Homo sapiens: one gene and its partners. The protein of the gene in region 1 interacts with the protein of each later gene in a pairwise test. Each region holds a gene or a part of one and is shown on either strand. Other genes may lie near its edges.

What was found. Proteins that work in one complex are often made in the same cells at the same time.
Region 2: the proteins of SNX4 (region 1) and SNX7 interact in binary tests that used the Homo sapiens proteins (3 or more experiments, as listed by UniProt).
Region 3: the proteins of SNX4 (region 1) and SNX30 interact in binary tests that used the Homo sapiens proteins (3 or more experiments, as listed by UniProt).

Annotation. Positions count from the first base shown.
Region 1 is NC_000003.12:125,454,185-125,461,207, reverse strand, and holds part of SNX4 (sorting nexin-4), read left to right. Parts: intron 1-347; coding exon 348-437; intron 438-3,842; coding exon 3,843-3,942; intron 3,943-7,023. UniProt on the Homo sapiens protein: Involved in the regulation of endocytosis and in several stages of intracellular trafficking. Plays a role in recycling endocytosed transferrin receptor and prevent its degradation.
Region 2 is NC_000001.11:98,657,516-98,664,730, forward strand, and holds the start of SNX7 (sorting nexin-7), read left to right. Parts: upstream 1-4,205; 5' UTR 4,206-4,216; coding exon 4,217-4,396; exon of another isoform or gene 4,397-4,867; intron 4,868-5,181; exon of another isoform or gene 5,182-5,301; intron 5,302-5,420; exon of another isoform or gene 5,421-5,443; intron 5,444-7,215. UniProt on the Homo sapiens protein: Involved in the regulation of endocytosis and in several stages of intracellular trafficking. Together with SNX4, involved in autophagosome assembly by regulating trafficking and recycling of phospholipid scramblase ATG9A.
Region 3 is NC_000009.12:112,746,728-112,753,769, forward strand, and holds the start of SNX30 (sorting nexin-30), read left to right. Parts: upstream 1-4,032; 5' UTR 4,033-4,274; coding exon 4,275-4,430; intron 4,431-7,042. UniProt on the Homo sapiens protein: Involved in the regulation of endocytosis and in several stages of intracellular trafficking. Together with SNX4, involved in autophagosome assembly.

The DNA of each region.
Region 1 (7,023 bases):
GTCACCCAGGCTGGAGTGCACTGGTATGATCTTGGCTCACTGCAACCTCCTCCTCCCGGGTTCAAGAGATTCTCCTGCCTCAGCCTCCCAAGTAGCTGGGATTACAGGCACCCGCCCCCACTTCCGGCTAATTTTTGTATTTTTAGTAGAGACAGGGTTTCACCACGTTGGCCAGGCTGGTCTCGAACTCCTGACCTCAAGTGATCTGCCCTTCTTGGCCTCCCAAAGTGCTGGGATTACAGGTGTGAGCCACTGCGCCCAGCCTAATTGCACTTCTCTAGAACCCTAATACTTTGTATTCCAATGAAAGTAACTCTATGCAATGTGTGTTTTTTTTTTTAAAACAGGTATGCATCTTCTATTGATGATATTTTGGAAGATGAAGAACATTATGCAGATCAGTTAAAAGAGTATCTTTTTTATGCAGAAGCATTGCGGTAAGTTTAATAAAAGTTCCAGGTGCAGCCACAGGGTTGTTCACCACTCTCCTCATATGCCACTGTAAAGTACAGATAGTAGAGTGTTTTTTAAATGAATGCATTCCCTCAGATAATGAATGAGGTCTCATTGTATTTCTCTGTGTTGCAGAGTGCTAGGCATAAACATGTAAGATGAGGCCTGCCCTCGAAGCATCATTTTGATAAAACCTGCCAGCCTCAGGCATCAAGTGTGCCTGTATGTTGTTGTTTCCACTTTTTCCAGTTTGAAGATTGGAAGCAAAATACAGATTCAGTGTGTGTAACAGTATCTGTTACTATGTTGTATATTGCTATTTTTATTCTGTGTGTCTTATCAGTAGCTTGTACAACGTCCTTATGTAACAAGGACTTTCTTATCTGTTCTTATGTTATCTTTTACAGAGCCAAAGGGAATTCTCTTTTAGATAGTCCTACGTGACTAGGAAAAAGTTAATATATTTTTTTCTGATCAGTTTAGAAAAAGGAATTATTTTCCCAGAATAGGTGGCTTTTGGTCAGTTGTCCTGTCACTTTTTTTTTTTTTTTTTTTTGAGACAGACTAGAGTTTGGCTGTGTCACCCAGGCTGGAGTGCAGTGGCGTGATCTCGGCTCACTGCAACCTCCACGTCCCGGGTTCAAACTATTCTCCTGCCTCAGCCTCCTGAGTAGCTGGGATTACAGGCGCCCGCCAACACACCCAGCTAATTTTTGTATTTTTAGTAGAGACAGGGTTTCACCGTTGTTGGCCAGGCTGGTCTCAAACTCCTGACCTCGGGTAATCCACCCGCCTCGGCCTCTCAAAGTGCTGGGATTACAGGCATGAGCCAACACTGTCCTGTCGCTTTTAAAAGCAGTATAAGAATTCTGTTAGGAAAACAAGAGCACTATTCCCTTACCTCTGTGGTGATTGGTGTGAAATCATCTGCACATTGTTAGCTCGTTTTCCTTCTAGGGCTTTGAGTAGTAGGAAGTCTCACCAATGTATTTTCAAGTCACCAAGCAAAAGAAAGTTGGCTAGGTGAGGTGGCTCCTGCCTGAATCCCAGCACTTTGGGAGCCCAAGGCGGATGGATCACCTGAGGCCAGGAGTTCGAGACCAGCCTAGCCAACATGGTGAAACCCCGTCTCTACTAAAATTACAAAAAAGTTAGCCAGGCATAGTGGTGGGTGCCTGTAATCCCAGCTGCTGGAGAGGCTGAGGCAGAATAACTGCTTGAACAGGGGAGGTGGAGGTTGCAGTGAGCCGAGATCGCACCATTACACTCCAGCCTGGGTGACAGAGTGAGATTCTGTCTCAAAAAAGAAAGTTGCTGAGTACAGTGGAATTCTCTGCAGCTCTTAAAAATTATAAAAGGGATTAATGTATGTTGACATGGAAAGATGGCCAGGGTGTATAGCCATTTGAGAAAAGATGTAGGAACCATTTGGGGTGCATGGATATGGTATTTGTCAATGCCTAGCTAAATTCTGAAAGATTATATACTATCTGGTAACACCGATTATATCTGGATAGTGGGATTGGAGGAAAGAGAGTGTTCTTGAACTTTCTTGTTGTATTTTGTTTTTTTTATTTTTTTGAGTTGGAGTTTCACTCTGTTGCCCAGACTGGAGTACAGTGGCACAATCTCTGCTCACTGCCACCTCTGCCTCCTGGGTACAAGTGATTCTCCTGCCTCAGCCTCCCAAGCAGCTGGGATTACAGGCATGCACCACCATGCCCGGCTAATTTTTGTATTTTTAGTAGAGATGGGGTTTTACCATGTTGGTCAGGCTGGTCTTGAACTCCTGACCTCAGGTGATCTGCCCACCTCGACCTCCCAAAGTGCTGGGATTACTGGCATGAGCCACCATGCCCAGCCTCTTTTTTTTACTTTGTGCATTGCTGTATTAGAATCTTTTCTTTTCTTTTTTTTTTTTTTTTTTTTTTTTTTTTTTTGAGACGGAGTCTCGCTCTTTCACCCAGGCTGGAGTGCAGTGGCGTGATCTCGGCTCACTGCAGGCTCCGCCCCCCGGGATTCACGCCATTCTCCTGCTTCAGCCTCCCGCGTAGCTGGGAGTACAGGCGCCTGCCACCTCTCCCGGCTTTTTTTGTATTTTTAGTAGAGACGGGGTTTCACCGTGTTAGCCAGGATGGTCTCAATCTCCTGACCTCGTGATCCACCCGCCTCGGCCTCCCAAAGTGCTGGGATTACAGGCATGAGCCACCGCGCCCATCCGAATCTTTTCTTTTTACAGTGAACATGGATTACTTTTATGATCATAAAAACTAATAAACATTTCTAGGCCAGGCGACATGGCTCATGCATATAATCCTAGCACTTTGGGAAACTGAGGTGGATGGATTGCTTGAGCCCATGAGTTTGAGACCAGCCTGGGCAACATGGGCGAGACCCCATCTCTACAAAGCACAAATTAGTTGGATATGGTGGCACATGCCTTAGTCCCAGCTACTTAGGAGGCTGAGGTGGGAGGATTGCCTGAGCCCAGGAGGCAGAGGTTGCATTTAGCCGAGATTGCACCATTGCCCTCCAGCCTGGGTGACAGAGTGAGACCTTGTCTCCAAAAAAAAAAAAAAAAAAATACCTAATAGACATTTCTAAATCACAAAGAAGAAAACTTTGAGGTATTATCTTTTCTAAGAATACTCAGTTGCTATGTGAGATTACAGCATTAGTTCTTACATTATGTAAGAACTAATTATGTATGTAGTTCATTATGTATGTAATTATGTATACATATGTATACATTATGTATGTAGTTCTCACATACATTAAAAAATGTTTTATGTATGTGATAATGGCATGTTTATTGAAAGAAATGTTCCAAGTATATGGAAAACAACTTTTTTTGTGTTAAGAATATATGACGTTTTTGGCCGGGTACAGGTGGCTCATGCCTGTAATCCCAGTACTTTGGGAGGCCGAAGTGGGTGGGTCACCTCAGGTCAGCAGTTTGAGACCAGCCTGGCCAATATGGAGAATTCCCATCTCTACTAAAAATACAAAATTAGCTGGGTGTGGTGGCGCATGCCTGTAATCCCATCTACTAGGGAAGCTGAGGCAGGAGAATCATTTGAACCCGGGAGGCGGAGGTTGCAGTGAGCCGAGATCGCGCCATTGCACTCCAGCCTGGGCAACAAGAGCAAAACTCTGTCTCAAAAAAAAAAAAAAAAAAAAAAGAATATATGAAGTTTTTATGGTTAGGTTCTGCTAGATTCCATTAGATTCCATTTTTAATGTTGGGCTACTACATTTTAAACTTGAAAATTCTGGGCACACACATTCTGCCCTAGCGAGACATTGTGAATGGTTCTCCTCTACCCTTGAAAAAAATGTTTGACATGTTAAAGGAAAAGTTAAATGGCAGCACATTTTTTCATCTGTAGGGCTGTGTGCAGGAAACATGAACTTATGCAGTATGACTTGGAGATGGCTGCTCAGGACTTAGCATCCAAGAAGCAGCAGTGTGAGGAACTGGTAACTGGGGTGAGTATTTTCCTTTTGGCCTCTGATGATACTGTAGCAACACGGAATGTTCCTCACAAGCACTCACTCTGAGTGAGTAACTCACTCCTGTAGAATCAGTTCCAGTTACAATACTCAGGACGGCTGAACCTTTTACAGGGGAATAATTTGTGAGTAACTTTATAATTCTTTTATTATTATCTTGATACAAAATGATGTAAGCCATTAAAACCATGTACTGTATAGAATTATAAGAAATTTTGCCAACATTTCTCTGGTGTAATCAGTATCATCCGGTTTCGTTTTAAAAAAAAAAAAAATTATTGGGCTGGGCACGGTGGCTCACACCTGTAATCCCAGCACTTTGGGAGGCCAAGGCCAGTGGATCACCTGAGGTCAGGAGTTCGAGATTAGCCTGGCCAACATGGTGAAACCCGATCTCTACTAGAAATACAAAAATTAGCCAGGTGTGGTGCCTCACGCCTGTAGTCCCAGCTACTCGGGAAGGTGAGGCAGAAGAATTGCTTGAACCAGGGAATCGGAGGTTGCAGTGACCCGAGGTCACGCCACTGCACTCCAGCCTGGGTGACAGAGCAAGACTCCATCTCAAAAAAATTGTTTTTATTAATTTTTATTTTTTGAGACAAGGTCTGGTTCTGTTTCCCAGGCTGGAGTGCAGTGGTATGATCAGGGCTCATGGAAGCCTCAAACTCCTGGGATCAAGTGGTCTTCCTGCCTCAGCCTCTTGAGTAGTTGGGACCACAGGCATGTGCCCCCATGCCTGGCTAATTTTGTTTATAGTCTCATCATGTTGACCAGGGTGGTCTCAAACTCCTGGACTCAAGTGATCCTCCCACCTCCGCCTCCCAAAGTGCTAGGATTACAGGGGTAAGCCACCATGCCTAGTCTATCATCTGGTTTCTAAGTCCAAGTGAAAAAACATGCAGTGACCTTTATCAGGTTTAACTTTGCAAGGTACTTTGCAGAAATTTTAGTTGACTTTGAAAAGCCTTACCCACTTAGAACCAGTGCATCTCGCCTAACAGGGAGCTTTTGATGTACTTTATTCTTTAATGCTTACAGTGAGTACTTGTGAGGAAAATTCTGTACCTGATTGCATTAGTCTTGGATCATTTTTATAATCAGCTTTCTACTCCAGTTATTTCATTGCAATAAATCAGCCATCATGGTGAGCAACACACATTCTGAAAGTAGTAAACCAGCAGCAATGTCTCTACTTAGTTAATAAGCACTGTAGTTTTTGTTTGTTTGTTTGTTTGTTTTTAGACCGAGTTTCGCTCTGTTGCCCAGGTTAGAGTGTGGCTCACTGCAAGCTCCACCTCCTGGGTTCACACCATTCTCCTGCCTCAGCCTCCTGAATAGCTGGGACTACAGGCGCCTGCCACCACGCCCGACCAATTTTTTTTTTGCACTTTTAGTACAGACGGGGTTTCACCATGTTAGCCAAGATGGTCTGAATCTCCTGACCTCGTGATCCGCCCGCCTCGGCCACCCAAAGTGCTGGGATTATAGGCATGAGCCAGCGCGCCTGGCCAAGCACTATAGTTTTAAAAGTGCTTTTCACAGAGATTACCCACTGGCTACATCTGTGAAAAGTCACAGATATATGTGGGGAAAGACTTGTGACCAGGACACATGTATAAACTAGGCCCTTGGTTTATTTTTAAAACTCAGTGGGAGAAGTTCCCAGGCCATTTTCAGGGAGCTTGGTTCTCTATCCTACATGTCAAGGGAAAAGTGTTTTCTTCAGTAAACTCCAGAGAGTGAGGAAATGTTAAAGCAGTGAAGCTTGGGGTTGCCTTCCCATGCTTGGATTTAGGTATCCTGTTTTATTAATAGATGCCCAAGTTTGAGCGTTGAGTTATGCAGATTTTAAATATGCTTCTTTAGTTTGGTTTATTTCCATAGTTGCCTAGTGAATTTATCGACTTTTTTTATAACATAAAGTAATTTTTAAAATATCATTCATACAGAGTAAGAAATAACGTCTAATATTTCACGTGGAAGTTTTCCATTTGATTATGAAATTCAAGCCGGGTATGGTAGCTTACAATGGCAATCCCGACACCTTTAGCAGCAGAGGCGTAAACCCAGAATTGCTTGAGCCCAGGAATTTGAGACCAGTGTGGATTAATATAGCTAGACCCTGTCTTTACCAAAAATTTAAAAATTAGCTGGGTGTGGTGGCATGCACCTGTGGTCCCAGCCACTTGGGAGGCAGAGGTGGGAGGATCACTTGAGCCCAGGAGGTTGAGGCTGCAGTGAGCCATGATTGTGCCATTACATTCTAGCCTGGGCAACAGAGCAAGACCCCATTTCAAAAAAAAAAAGAAATTCAGTTAGAAGTGTCTTCTTTTTGACTACTCCATATTATTTCAGTGTTAGAAATTCTATTAGGATTCTTGGCTATGACTCTGTAAAAATAAATAAAAACTCATATAAGAGATCCCTGGTTGTGAAGCTTATGGTGGTTTTGTCTGACTTAGGGGAAATATGGCAAATGTTTTCTATTTCCTTTGTGTGTGTAGTGAAATATATATAACATAAAATGTACCATCTTGTCCATTTTTAAGTATATAGTTCAGTAGTGCAGTCATCCCTCAGTATCTTCAGTGAGATTGGTTTAAGGATCCCTGGGATACCAAAATCCTCAGATGCTTAAGTCCCTTCTATAAAATGGTGTAGTATTTGCATGTAACCTGTGCATATCCTTTTGTATACTTTAAATCAGCAGTCGCCAACCTTTTTGGCACTAGGGACCTGTTTTGTGGAAGACAGTTTTTCCATGGACCAGGGCAGGGGGTGCTGAGGATGATTTCGGGATGAAACTGTTTCATTTCAGATCATCTCAGGCATTAGATTTTCACAAGGAACACACAACCTGGATCCCTCACATGCGCAGTTCACAATAGGGTTCGTGCTCCTAAGAGAATCTAATGCCTCTGCTGCTGATCTGACAGGAGGCAGAGCTCAGGTGGTCGCTTGCCTCCTGCTATGCAGCCTGGTTCCAAACAGGCCATGGACTGGTATCACTCCGTGGCTCTGGGGTTGGGGACCCCCTGCTTTAAATTATCTCTAGAT
Region 2 (7,215 bases), on another chromosome or scaffold:
TACAAGCATGGCATCAGCATTTTCTTGGCTTCTGCTGAGGCCTCAGGAAGCTTACACTCATGGCAGAAGGCAAAGGGGGCACAGACAGGCATGTCATAGGACAAGAGAGGGAGTGAGCGAGAGAGAGAGATTCAGAAAAAGAGTCAGAGTGAGAGAGAGAGAGATAGGTGCTATGCTCTTTTTTTTTAAACAATCATTTCTTGTGTGAACTAATAGAGCAAGAACTCACTCACTACCACAGGGAGGGCACCAAGCCATTCATGAGAGATCCTCCCCCATGACCCAAACATCTCCCATTAGGCCCCACCTCCAACATTTGGGATCACACTTCAACATAACTTTAGGAGGGGACAAATAGCCAAACAATATCAACTAGATACATAAGCATGTGACATCAGGTGACTATGTGATCCAAGCAGCTCCTCATGAAATGGGTGCTATAATGAAAAAAATCCTAAAATTGATCCAGCCTTACTTCAGCAAGCCATGCTCATGTGGAAATGTAATATTTGAAAGTGGTCCTATAAGCATACATTGCATGAGCATTTGGCTTTTACTCTCAGCAGGTCTACCCCTATGATCTCATAGGGAGTTTTATCTGAACAGTTAACTAAGGGGTAAAAACTCCAAAGTTGGTTTACAGATGGATCTTTATCATTTGCGGGAATCAGTTAGTAGTTATTGCAGTGCAAAAGGGCAGTGGACAAGGGAAATCCTCCTCTTGGTATACAACAGTGCCCACTATGCTTCAAAGGGCAGTTAGAATGAGGCTTCTATGCTCTTTCCAGGACAAAGGCTAGAGGTTTGACTTGATGAGACTTAGAAGAAACAAGGTAGGATCTCGGGGTCAAGAAGGTTTGAGAAAATGTATGTAGGTGACTTTCTTGGAATGGCCCCAGAATAAAAGCATATTTGTATGTAGCCCACAACAATGCTCTCCAAAAAAGCCTTTTCATTTGATGAATTTATGTCATCAGAAATAAGTTTGAAAATAATGCTTATTCTCCTGTGGATGTTAATCTTACTGCTTTTCTAGAAACTCCAGTGCTTGTTCTATGGCTTCACATACCATGTGGCCATGGTGGCAGGGATTTATGCTATGCATTGGCTCAAAAATAAGGATTTCCTCTCACTAAAGGATAATTGGCTGCTTCCATTGCTCAGCACTCAGCTTGCCACAGCAACTATGCAGGACCCTTACCCTGCCACACTGGAGGATGCCATGATTTGTCTTTAGTGGAAAAGTCAAATTGGCTTTGCTTTTTCTGCTCATCAGATTTCCCTCAACACGCTCGTCCATGAACTTATTGACTGGTCTATTCCTCAGTAGATTTTGCACATTATATTTTTTTCTAACTAGTTAAATCACTTTCTAGCAAAAGAAGTAAAGCCTTTGGGCAATGCCCATGGGGTAACTTGTCTCATCACAAAACCCATTACTAGAAACAGCAGACTTCATAGATGGTGGAATTGAATATTAAAGATCCAGTTATGGTCTGAAGAGATCCCATCTGGAAAGTATAAGGGAGAGAAAGCTTTTTGACAAGATGTATATTCATGAAACCATAAATTAATGTATGATATTATTTCTCTTAAACAGGACAGGAGTGGGTAGGGCTGCTCTTAATATTATACTTGCACTCCAAGTTTTGGACTATGCTGGTTTAAAGGCTTTAGTACCCAAGTAAGAATTCTTCCATTAAAAAACCTAGTGATAGGCTGGGCACGGTGGCTTAAGCCTGTAATCCCAGCACTTTGGGAGGCCGAGGCGGGTGGATCATGCAGTCAAGAGATCGAGACCATTCTGGCCAACATGGTGAAACCCTGTCTCTACTAAAAATACAAAAAATTAGCTGGGCGTGGTGGCGCACGCCTGTAGTCCCACCTACTCAGGAGGCTGAGGCAGGAGAATCGCTTGAACCCGGGAGGCGGAGGTTGCAGTGAGCAGAGATCACGCCACTGCACTCTAGCCTCGGCGAGGGAGTGAGACTCTGTCTCAAAAACAAACAAACAAACAAACAAAAAAACCCAGTGATAGTCCCACTTAATAGGAAGCTGAGACTACAGGAGGAATAGACATACTGCTTTGGAGTTGTACTAATAATGAGTAGGTTTGGGATTATCTCCCTTTGAGGGGCTGTGAACTGCATGCTCAGGTGCTCAAAGCATGGAGGTAGGGGGAGTATGTGAAGAAAGGTAATATTAATTGGACAGCCAAAGGGGCAAATTATAGTCACGTTTTCCCTACTCTTCTTCCTCATCCTACCCCTCTTCCTATTTTTCTTGTTTTTGGTTGACAAGCATCAATATGGCCTTTCTATGTTTAGAAAATTCTCTGCCTTAGGAATTTCCATGAAACTTGGCCAGATTGGCCAAGCACACATACTCTCCAGGGTTTTAATACTAGAAAAATCAACACAGAGAAACAGGGTGATGGAGACATTTTTGTGGCAGTAATAGCAGGGAAGTTCTCAGAGGTAGCTGTGGTACTGCTGCCAGGGAAAGCAACTGGAGTCCAGTAACATCAGTGTTAATGACAATATTGACACTGGTGAAGATGGTGTGGCAACCAGTATCAGGCAATGGTAGCAGCAATGTCTGTACCACTGGTTCTGTGGCCTTGCTTTTGGCTATAATCCAAGCTGTGCAGCCTTGCTTTATTCTGCCCATTTTCTGAGCCCATTCTCTATGGTTTCTAGCAATTCTGTGAGTTACAGCATTATTAAGAATTTCCTGGTTCAGATTGCAATTAGAAAACCTTGAATCTTCCTTACTAGTCAGAATAAGCTTATCAAGGAAAAAATAAAGTCTTTTAATAACTTATATTATTTACAGAAATTAGCAGAGAGCATTTTGAGAGTACATCTGATACTGTGGTTAATACATATCAGGATCCTCAACCTGAAAATGTTATCATTTACTAAGGAATGGAAAACTTGTACATGAAACAAATACAATCTGCAAGATGGAATAAAATTAAATGCTAAATTGAGAACAGACTGTCATTTAGAAAGTCTTTCTGAAAGAGATGGGACTATATTTAATTTCTGAAGGATGGGCAGGAGATGGCATTTAAAGTACAGAAATCATCAAGCACAGAAACAAATGTGGATACTCATGGGGCAGTGACCAACCTGACTGAAGGGTGGGTGCACGTCTGAAATCAATGGGAATACATTTGAATGATTAGGAGATAATATATTATTAAGGCCTTGCCTCTAATCAGAAATAAAGATATTCTCTATTTCCCCAAATAAGGAATTCTTACATAGAGCTTAATGTATTTAAAAATTTTTAAATGGGCCTACAGAAAAGAGGTGGGGCTGACGGAAGTAAATAAAACCTGAAGATAAATTAAAGAATATATCAACGTGGGCAAAATTTTCCATTAGTTTTGGAACTTAGTTTTGTTTTTGAATAATAAGCAGTTAAATAATTAAAGCTTTGCCTTGGCAATGCAAGGACTGAAGATTATTTCTCGGTGGCAATTTTCCAGACTTGCTAGTTGTCCTTGGGTCTTGGTAACATTCTGCTCATTAACTTCAGGAAGACGTCCAGGAGTAAAGATGCATTTGAAAGTGGCTGAAAATAGTTTGTAAAGCTCAGCTTTCCTGGCTCGACAGTGAAATGACCGCACAGGCCAGTCACTGGGTCAAAAATCAATTAACAAAACGGGAAGTTTTCATGTCTTTATTTTTACATTAGCTCGAAAATCACAACCAAGAAGAAAGGCAACCACTGAATACAGGAAATACAGTATTGTTATTGCTGTTTTTTTTTTTTCTCTTGGCAAGGCTGGGTCGGGTGCCTTCCAGCCTCGCTGTGGATCCCGCGAAGTGGACGGTTCGCTTCGTGGCTTCTTCCCAGACCCCGCCACTGCGGAAACCGTCACTCGGTGGCCCCCGACTGGGTCAATGCGAGGACGCCCACCTCCTACCTTTGAGTCTCTCCTCTTCTCCAGGGTACAGCCAACCCTTTCTCCAACGTAGCCGGAGTCCGAGAGTCCCAGTTCCGCCCCTCCAGCCCGCCCCAGGCCAGGTGGGGATGCGCCCGGCCCGGGCCAGCGCTGGTCCCGGCAGTTCCGCGTCTGCGCAGCGGGCGAGGGGCTGGAGCGGGGCCGGCCGGGGAGGTGCAGGAGACGTGGGAGCCAATGGGCACGCTCGGGGGAGCCGGGCTGGCGGCGGCGGTGGCGGCCGGCTGGGCGCGCACTCTCGGGATGGAGGGCGAGCGCCGGGCATCGCAGGCGCCCTCCTCGGGCCTCCCGGCCGGGGGCGCCAACGGGGAGAGCCCGGGGGGCGGCGCCCCCTTTCCGGGCAGCAGTGGCTCTTCCGCCCTGCTGCAGGCGGAGGTGCTGGATCTGGACGAGGACGAGGACGACCTGGAGGTGTTCAGCAAGGTGAGGGCGGCGGCGGCGAGTCCCGGGAAACTTCCAAGGCAACTCCGGGCGTTGCCAGCATTGCGCCGACGGCTGCCTCTGGCGCGCTTGCCCTCCCGGGGCGGTGGCTCTGAGCTGGGGACGAGTGAGGTCCCCCGGGCTGCTGGACCCCGCCTGCCAGCTCTGGCCGCACCCGGGGCCGCGTCGCCTCGGGGCCTCAAACCGCAGCCGCTCCCTCCTCCGCACTTTGACCTTCCGTTCGGCGGGGCTGTGGCTTAGTGGAGTCTGCAAAGTTGTGATTTGTTTTCCCTTTCTGCTTCTCTGACACAGACATCTTCCTCGCGGCAGCTCCCGAACCTGGGAGGCTGGTGGCTCAAAACCGCTCCCGCCAGCTGCTTTTCGGGCGAGGCCAGCCCTGAACTCTGGGAGAGCAGCCAAGTTTAGAGAAATTATTCTTAATTTAGTGTTGTTGCTTGTGGATTTGAGACTTGGGTGAGTCTCGGGTCTTGTGGGAATAGGTTCTAGGAAATCTCCCTGAACAGGAGAAAACGGTTGTTTCTAACAGGAAGCTCCTCCGCTGAGGAGCTAAGGATTTTTCAGATGGTCAGCTACTGCCACCCAACCCACAGCCAGTGCTTTCGTTTTTCCTTGCCCCCGGGAAATTTAGGACCAAAGGCTCTTATTTGCTTATTTTACTGTTGGAGGGAAATTGACTTGTGGGGGCTAGTGGTAGACTTTTGGTACGTGTAGACTGGTGTTTGTAATTTCTTAAAGGGTTTTAGAAAAGAAAAATACCTTTCTTGCAGGGAGGTTGAATGTCACTCCAGTTTCTCAAGTTGCTGCTGAGAGAAGACCTGAGTTCAGATCACAACGCTGTATTCATTACTAAGAAGCCTGTTCATTTTAACGTTACCTGGAGATATTAGGTAAAGCAAACGACCTACTTAACCACCGCATTTACTCTGGGAGAGCAAACCAAAGTTAGGAAGTGACCATGCATACTCTGACTCCAAAGAGGAGTATATAAAACTTATTTCTACTTCGGTTTAAATGGAATGATAGGCCCAGGTTTGTATTCCGAATATTTAAACAGACTATCACAGTTTTGTGCTCTTGACTTTTCTGTTAAGTAGTAAAACAATGGAATTATTTTATGTTTAGTTGTAAACTCTGCCTTTTTATATTCCACACATACTTCATGTTCAGATCAACGACAGTTGGCCAGTTGGTTATTTACTTTCTTTCCTTCTTTACATTGCTGTTTGGATAAGGAATATTAGTCTATGGTTATGCATTGTGAAACTTTGGGATGGGATGTTGGAAATAGCAATGGTGTATCAGAATCATCAGGGTTTCTTTCTGGTTTTTTTTTTTTTTTTTTTTTTTTTTTTTTTTTTTTTTTGTCGGGGCTGGACCCATCTGGCCTCAAGGGATTCTACCACCTCCAGCACCCAAAGGGTTTGGGATTACAGGCTTGAGCCACAGTGACTCGGATTGTTTTAAACTTGTCAAGTGGTTTCTCTTTCCCCAGATTCTAGGTGTTCTAGCTGACTCTTAAGAATCAATGTTTAAATGAGGTCCTCTTGTCAGAGGCAGATCCAAGGTGAAGCTAATGAAATTGAAGCTTCAGCGCTATTCGTTTGCTTAGACCTCTGGGCGTGTTGGGGGTTGCTGGAGTCGCAGATGTTCTAGGTGGGAAGGAAATGACAGGTCCCGACCAGAAGCATTTCTAAATAAGCATTTCTGGTGAATTGCCTAAAGCTCTCTCAGACTAAGGAATCTAGATCTCCATGGCTCCAATCATTTATTGAGATTTCTTTTCTCATTCTGAATAATGTGTTTTTCCACCTAATTTTGTATTCTTTTAAAAGGGGACCTTCCAAACTCTAAAAGCCCGTACACCTGGGTCCACCCTGCTTGTTAGTGTTAACTGCGCGTGTTGGATGCTTAGAAAAAGTTAAGAACAACTTCTGTAGAAACTGCCCACATAGATTAAGGCAAAGATATAATATTAGTGAAAATCCAACAAGAGTAGTTGGAAAAGTTTAAAATTAGCCACTTTCATCCATTTCAGTAAGTTGAATTTCTCAACCGTTATCTGTAGTTAAGCAAATTTAAGAAAGCCTGCTCCACGTGGCCTTCCCTTTCCACTACCTTCCTTGCCTGCTCCTCTATAAAACAAACACCACTGCTGTTCAGCCTATCCTAGGATGGAATCTCACAATTACTTATGAAGCAAACTGTCCTTCCCTTTTAGTAATTTGAGATTGGCAAACTACATATTTAATTTACATTCACCTTTATAGTCCCCTTATTCTCTTAGATTATTTGTGAATATGTGTCTGGTATACTCTTCCAGAAGCTTTTTAAAGAGTATGAATTTCCCCAGCACTTTGGGAGGCTGAGGCTAGCGGATCACTTGAAGTCAGGAGTTCACAACCAGCCTGGCCAACATAGTGAAACCCCATCTTTACTAAAAATATAAAAATTAGCCGGGTGTGGTGGTGGGAGCCTTTAATCCTAGCTAACCGGGAAGCTGAGGCAGGAGAATCTCTTGAACCCGGGATGCAGAGGTTGCAGTGGGCTGAGAGATCACGCCACTGCATTCCCACCTGAGTGACGGAGTGAGACTCTGTCTCAAAAGAAAAACAAAACAACTTCTTATTATTTTTTTTCCACAACGTATTACAAGTACATGGCAAATATACATTTTGTGTTAAGTATGCTTTAAAAAAAAGAAATACAAGATTTAGTTCTTGCTATCACAATCTTATACTCCAGGTGGGAAGATGTGACAAACTCTAAATGGCAATATAAATCAAGAGGGATGGAAAGTAAAA
Region 3 (7,042 bases), on another chromosome or scaffold:
CCAGCATCAGCGTAAGCATCACCTAGGAGATTAACACTTTTTAAATTAAAAATTAATTTAAATTAAAAATTATTCCAGGCCTCACTCCAGAAGCAGAATCTCTTGATGTGGGGCCCAGAAGTTTGCATTTTTACAAGCTCACAATTGATTGTTAGGCACCCAAAGTTTGAGATTTGGAACACTAACTCCATGACTGTACTGTATAACTCACTGCATCAGGGTCTCCATGCTTTGCAAGCCAGGAGCTCTTCTATATGGAGAGATAAAATGATGCTATCATTCACCCACAAGCCCCTCTGCTGGTTCAGTAGCAAGTTCCAATTTCTTGTTAGCAAAACTGTTCAGATCCTGGACTCAAGTGGACCTTGTTTCTTTCCTGGGACATCATTGGCTGAATTAAATTGTCCACACAATTTTGTCTCTGTTGGGGATTGTGCCTTCTCACTTGCCCCCCTTGTTTGATACAGCCCTCTGTGGCTTGCGACATGTCATCCTGAATGCTCTCTGAAAACGTCCTTTGTCCTCACCAGCCGTCCACTTCAGAAGTGGTGGTGTTATTCTGAGGCAGGGCTTGGGATGCCATATAGAATAAAGCTATGATTGTACTAAAAACCACCAGAGGATAAGCGGCTAACACAAACATGAAGAAGGCCTAAGCACATGCTGTACCAGGGGAAAGAATGAGCGAATGATGCATTGAGACTGCTTTGTTTCTGAGGTCTGGGTGCTCACAGGCAGCCCCAATACGCTTGCTAGTGAGGTCGATAGGATTTGTTTGGTAAGCGTACTAAATTCTGGGGCCCAAAGCCCTGTCTCCTGAAAGGTGCCAGCCTAAGTGTCTAAGATTCCTTATGAATTGGGAGGGCTCCATGCTGTGTTCTTGGGTTCTGGTGGCATTGGGGACCTCCCTCGCCCCTCATGCACACACATACATCTACTATCTTCCTCAGAGCTCAACCCTAGAAATCCAAGCTTCCCTCCATAAGTTCCAACAAACACCACAGCCTTCTGCTCTGATGGAGAAACGTTACACGTTTCCTCCTTACCACCATGCTGCTTTTAAAACTTTTAGTAGCCTGTAATCCCAGCACTTTGGGAGGCCAAGGCAGGCAGATCACTTGAGGTCATGAGTTTGAGACCAGCCTGGACAACATGGTGAAACCCTGTCTCTACTAAAAATACAAAAATTAGCCGGGCATGGTGGCACACACCTGTAATCCCAGCTACTGTGGAGGCTGAGGCAGGAGAATCGCTTGAACCTGGGAGGCGGAGGTTGCAGTGAGCTGAGATTGCGCCACTGCACTCCAGCCTGGGCGACAGAGCAAGGCCCTGTCTCCAAGAAAAAAAAAAAAAAAAAACAAAACCTTTTAGTAGAAGCAAAGTCACATGCTCTGGGACACTTATATTATTTCAGTGACAATTTCCCACCACAAGGAACACTGAAATACCACAGGAAATGGTGAATATGAATGGGCAGGGCTGGGCTAAATTTCATCGTGGAAACTTTCTACCAAAATACTTTCCATACAAATTCACTTTCTTTAGTTTTGATGACTACCCACTGGATATTGTGGCCAGCTGCTATCGACCAACCAGGAAACTGGAAAATAAATAAATAAACTGTAATCAACTATTTCATATGGCCTTTTAGGAACTCTGGGTCTGGGTCCTTTTTTTGGTGGGAGCATAGAAAAGTGGTACTCCAATCTAAACTGAGCAAATGGAGGACTTTGGAGGTCAATACACACACACACACACACACACACATATACACACATATATATGTACACACACATATATATGTATATATATATATATTTTTTTTTATTTTGAGACAAGGTCTCCTTCTGTTGCCCAGGCTGAAGTACAGTGGTGCAATCTCAGCTCATTGCACCCTCAACCTCCCAGGCTCAAGCAATCCTTCCACCTCAGCCTCTTGGGTAGCTGGGACTACAGGTATGTGCCACCATGCCGGACTAATTTTTACATTTTTTATAGAGATGGGGCTCTCACTATGTTGCCCAAGCTGGTCTTGAACTTATGGGCTCAAGTGATCCTCCCACCTTGGCCTCCCAAAGTGCTGGGATTACAGGTGTGAGGCACCCTACCTGGTGTGTATGTGTGTGTATATATATGTATATTCAACCAGACCCTACTCAGAATAGTAAAGCATATTTAATTACAAAAACTCTTTATTATTTCATAAGAATAGTAGAGAAAATCTGACAGAAAGGGAAAGGAAGGTAGGTAATTAACATTTAGGGAGCACCTATTTTATGCCAGCACTTTGCTAGGACTATGACATAAAGAATGCTATATAACTCTCACAACCATCTCATAAGGTATTATTACCTGCTCTCCATTCTCCTCCTTTTTAGGTTAGGAACAGGTTCACTGAGGTTAGTAACTTGCTCATGGTCACCCACTTGTAGTGACAAAGCCGAATTCAAATGTGGTTCTTTTTTCACTTTCCCCTGGTGTACTAAAGAGAAAGCTTGTATAGAGTCTTAATCCATACGGATGTCCATTATATTTAAGGCAGCCTGGTTGTTAAAATAAGTAGCACCATTCAATAAGAAAAACCGATGTTATACATCTATAGATGTATATACTCATTTCTAGAAATACTCATTTCTAGTTATATTGTGCTATTCATTTTCATGCTAATTCAGAAGAACAGATAATAGGGTCTGTAGTAGTTGTAAGCAGCCCTTGAATGTGAAAGTGTTAACAATTTTAATCCAACTCCAAGAGGACCAGAACTTGGCATTCCTTAGATGCAGCATTTAAAATTGTTCCCAGTGCCCTTTGAATGCTACTTTTCCCAGCCAAGGCAGGCTTATGTGGAGGAGATAAAGATGATAGCTTGAGGACTAAGGGTCCAACCCTATATAAATTACATTGGGGGAAATAGGGGAAGGTCTTTGAAGCTCAGAGTCTCTGACTGATATTTTGGGTAGATTTCAACCCTCTGCATTCTCTTCTATTTGTTTCTAGAGAAAACTGTGGTAGAGGCCTTAGTGAATCCCAGAGTCAACATCTGTCATCACCTTTTAGCAGGTAAGGCTAGGCAAACCTTTGAGTTTGGAATGGGTAGGGAAAATGTGGTCCCTCACGATGAGCCTCCCTACCCATTACTTTGCTAGAGGGACTGAAAACCCTTTAAAGACTTGGCCTTGGAAACAGAAGATCTAGGGACAGGTAAGGTGGAAAAAGGAGGTGAACCTACACCCCAAAGGGCTGGAAGTAACACCTTGACTATTTGCACCACGCCAGCAAATAAAGCTGAGAATCAGCTCAGCCCAAGGCCTGGAAAGGAAGCACAAATGCATGAAGAATAACTTGAACCTCATGGTTCTTTCAAAAGTCTCTTCGGCCAAAGTGTGAGTTGAAGAGTCGCATATCATTTGAGACTCTCTACTCATGCTCGCTGTTCTGAGGTTTGACTTTACACAAATCCAGCTCAGCTGCAGAAGCAAGCCACAATGGGGACCTCAGAGTGAGCCTGAAGACTCCCCACACCGCCTCTTTGAAGTCCCTTCCAGGTTCCCCACCCGATGTCCTCTAGCTCATTTGAGCCTTGTCGCCCTTTATGCTATTCTTCCGATATGGGTCGTAATTCCGTCTATCTAGGGTTCTTCCTGCGCGTGCCTTAGAGGCCAGAAGACCCTGACTCACGTGCGTGTCCTCAAAGCCCCCAGCCCCAAGCGTGGCTGCTGGTGGGCGCATCAGTAAACGCGGGTGGAACGGAACAGGCTCCTCCAACCTCTTTTCCACCTCTGATTTCCGTTAGACATTTGCTCCGCACGGCGGCCTCCGCGAGGCAACGTTGGACACTGGGAGGACAGCCGCAGAGGCCCAGGGCGCACTTCCTGCCGGGCGGGGGCGGGGCCGCGCCTCCTCCCTCCCTCCCTCCGTCCTTCCTTCCCCACGTGCCCCTTCCCCGCCCTCCCCGCCCCCTCCCGGGCGGCCGCGGCGCCTCGGGGGCGGGGCCGGAGCGGGTGGGCGGTGTGGCTGTGTGGGCTGGGCGCCGCGGCCGTGCTGCCAGCGGACCCGCGGCGGGCTCGGGCGCGGAGCGGGGGCGCGCGGCGCGGAGCGGAGCGTCTGAGCGCCGGCAGAGACCAGCCGGCGGGTGGCGGCGGCCCCCAGCACGGCCGGTGCAAGGCCTCGGGTTAAGCGGCGGCCGAGCGGGGCTCGGCCCGGGGTGCTCGGGGAGCTCGCCGCGGCGGGCAGCAGGAGGAAGCGGCGGCGGCGCGTCCCGAGCGGTGCGCGCCATGGCGGGCGGGCCCCCCAAGGCCCTGCCGTCCACGGGGCCCCACTCCCTGCGCGACATGCCGCACCCGCTGGCCGGCTCCAGCAGCGAGGAGGCCGTGGGTGGTGACAGCACGCCCAGCCCGGACCTGCTGATGGCCCGCAGCTTCGGTGACAAGGTGGGGCGCCTGGGGCCGGGGAGTGGGAGGCTTATTTCGCTCCCCGTGGGGGGGATGATGGATCCGGAGCCTTCGTGGGCCTGGGGCCGCGCCCACCCTGCCGCCCCTTCCCGGGGGACGGGCGTGTCCTGGCCCCGGAGCCCTCGGCGAAGCGTCTCCTCTGCCGCCTCCGCGGGGTCGCAGCCGCAGAGGGACAGGCTTCGCTGCCTGTGACTGGTCGCAAGCACCGGTGACAGCTGGTGGGGAGGGGTCCAGCCTGCGTGTTGGAGCGGGAGGCGTGTGTTCAGGGCAGGGCGCCTGTGTCCTCGGATGGGGTTCCGAGTTCCTCCAGGTGCATCCCTGCAGGCTGAGCTGCTGCATAACTTGTAGCTCCTCCAGTTTCCGAGACTGCACAGAAAGCAGGAGTTCCTGGCTTTCCGTGCTGGGACCGGGCAGCCCTGGGCTTACAGCGAGAGTCTTCTTCCCCCTAGTCAGTCATGTGGGGAGTGATCTTTGTTTAGGTTTGCTGTTTGTCCTGAGGAGTCACCTGACTCAGACCCCAGCCGGCGGCGGGAGGAGAGCCTCGTTGTGGTTTTCTGTCTGGGGCTCCATTCACCTCCGACGGCCTACCACTCTGTTTAGGTTTGGCAGAGGCTGGTTTTGTGGTTGATGGAAAGAAAGCTCGCCCTTTGACCTTCTTTGTACGGAGGGAGGCTCCAGATTTTCTTAGAGCAGCACAACCCTCCTGCTGCTTGGAGAGACAGCAGAGTCCAGGCAGGGGTAAGGGACGACCTCCTCCCTACCCCCATGGCCATTTCAGCTGTGAAGGAGACTTGAGCAGTGATTGTATCCCCGCTCCTGCCGTCACTTAGTCACTAACTGCAGAAATTAGAATTGTTCTCAGGTCTTGTGATCAAGATTTTCTCTCCCTAGTAAAATACTAAATGAATTCCCCCTTGTCCCAATATTAATGGGAGCAGGGGACCTAACTTTCTTCTCCCGTTAGAGGGGACACCATGTGGTACAGTGAAAAAGGAGTATGAGAAAATATAACCTGCCCTCCTTGCAGTCAGAAGGTCACTGAGCACTTAAAATCACTAGAGAGTGCGACTTGATGTACCTTCTGCAGAGGGTTTGTGAAAGCAGGGAGTGAAGTTCCAAAGCATTAGGAACAGGAAAATTAAAAAAGCTAATGGAGGCCAGGTGCAGTGGCTCACACCTGTAATACCAGCACTTTGGGAGGCTGAAGTGGGATGATTGCTCTGAACCAAAAGTTTGAGACCAGCCTGGGCAACATATCGAGACCCCGTTTCCACATACGCACACAGCATGGTGGCATGCACCTGTAATCCAGGCTACTCAGGAGGCTGAGGCGGGAGGATTGCTTGAGCCTGGGAGTTCAAGGCTGCAGTGAGCTATGATTGCACCGCTGTACTCCAGCCTGGGCAAGAGAGTGAGACCCTGTCTCCAAAAAATGTTGAATAACTGAATAAATTTGCTTTCTTATCGACAAAAATTGGTCTTAAAATAGTGTAGGAACTGGGGGTTAAACCTCATTTCCTTCTCAGTTCTGTGTGGGACACTGAATTAATTATCTATTGCTGTGTAGCAAATTACCCCAAAACTTATCACCTGGAAATAGTGTCTGTGGGACAATCTGAGTGGTTCTGAATTAGGCCTTTCTTGAGGTTGCAGTCAAGTTGTTGGCTTGGGCTGCAGTCATCTGAAGGCTGGATTAGGGGAGGATCCACTTCTAAGCTCACTCACATGGCTGTTGGCAGGTCTTAGTTACTCTCCATAGGGCTGTTTGATGTGGCAACTGGTTTTTCCCCCCAGAGCAAGTGATCCAAGAGAGCTCAAGACTCTAGCCAGTCTTGTATAACTTATCTTGGAAATGACATGCCTCTGCTGTATTCTGTTGGTCACACAGATTGACACTGGTACAATGTGGGGAGAGGGTGTGAATATCAGGGTGTGTATACCAAGAGGTGGGGATCATTGGGCCATCTTGGAGACTGGCTACTACAGATAGCCATTTAAAATATTTACCTAACGATTCACTCATGGATGATACCTGACTCAGAAGTATGAGCATTTTACTAATAAGCACTTGGAAGACAAATTCCCCGTACCACCAAGATCTGGTTAGTGGTGAAGAAGTCAGTCTCAAGTCTAATTACCGATGGCTTCCTTTAAAGGGTCTGTTCTGTGTAGGAGGGAGAGTCTTGAAGGCATTATTAATTATTGAATATATATGTATTTTTTTGAGCAGAGACTTACTCTGTCACCCAGGCTGGAGCGCAGTGGCCTGATCCTGACTCACTGCAACCTCCACCTCCCTGGTCAAAGTGATTCTCGTGTCTCAGCTCCCGTATAGCTGTGATTACAGGCGTGTGCTACCTTGACCAGGTAATTTGTGTATTTTTAGTAGAGACGAGGTTTCGCCATGTTGGCCAGGCTAGTCTCGAACTCCTGGCTTCAAGTGATCTGCCCTCCTCGGCCTCCCAAAGTGCTGGGATTACAAACATGAGCCACTGTGCCTGGCCTAATTATTGAATATTTAATGAATCTCCTAACAGCTGTGGGGAGCATCTAAATGACACCATTCTCAAGGGCCTGATTTATAGTAAGCC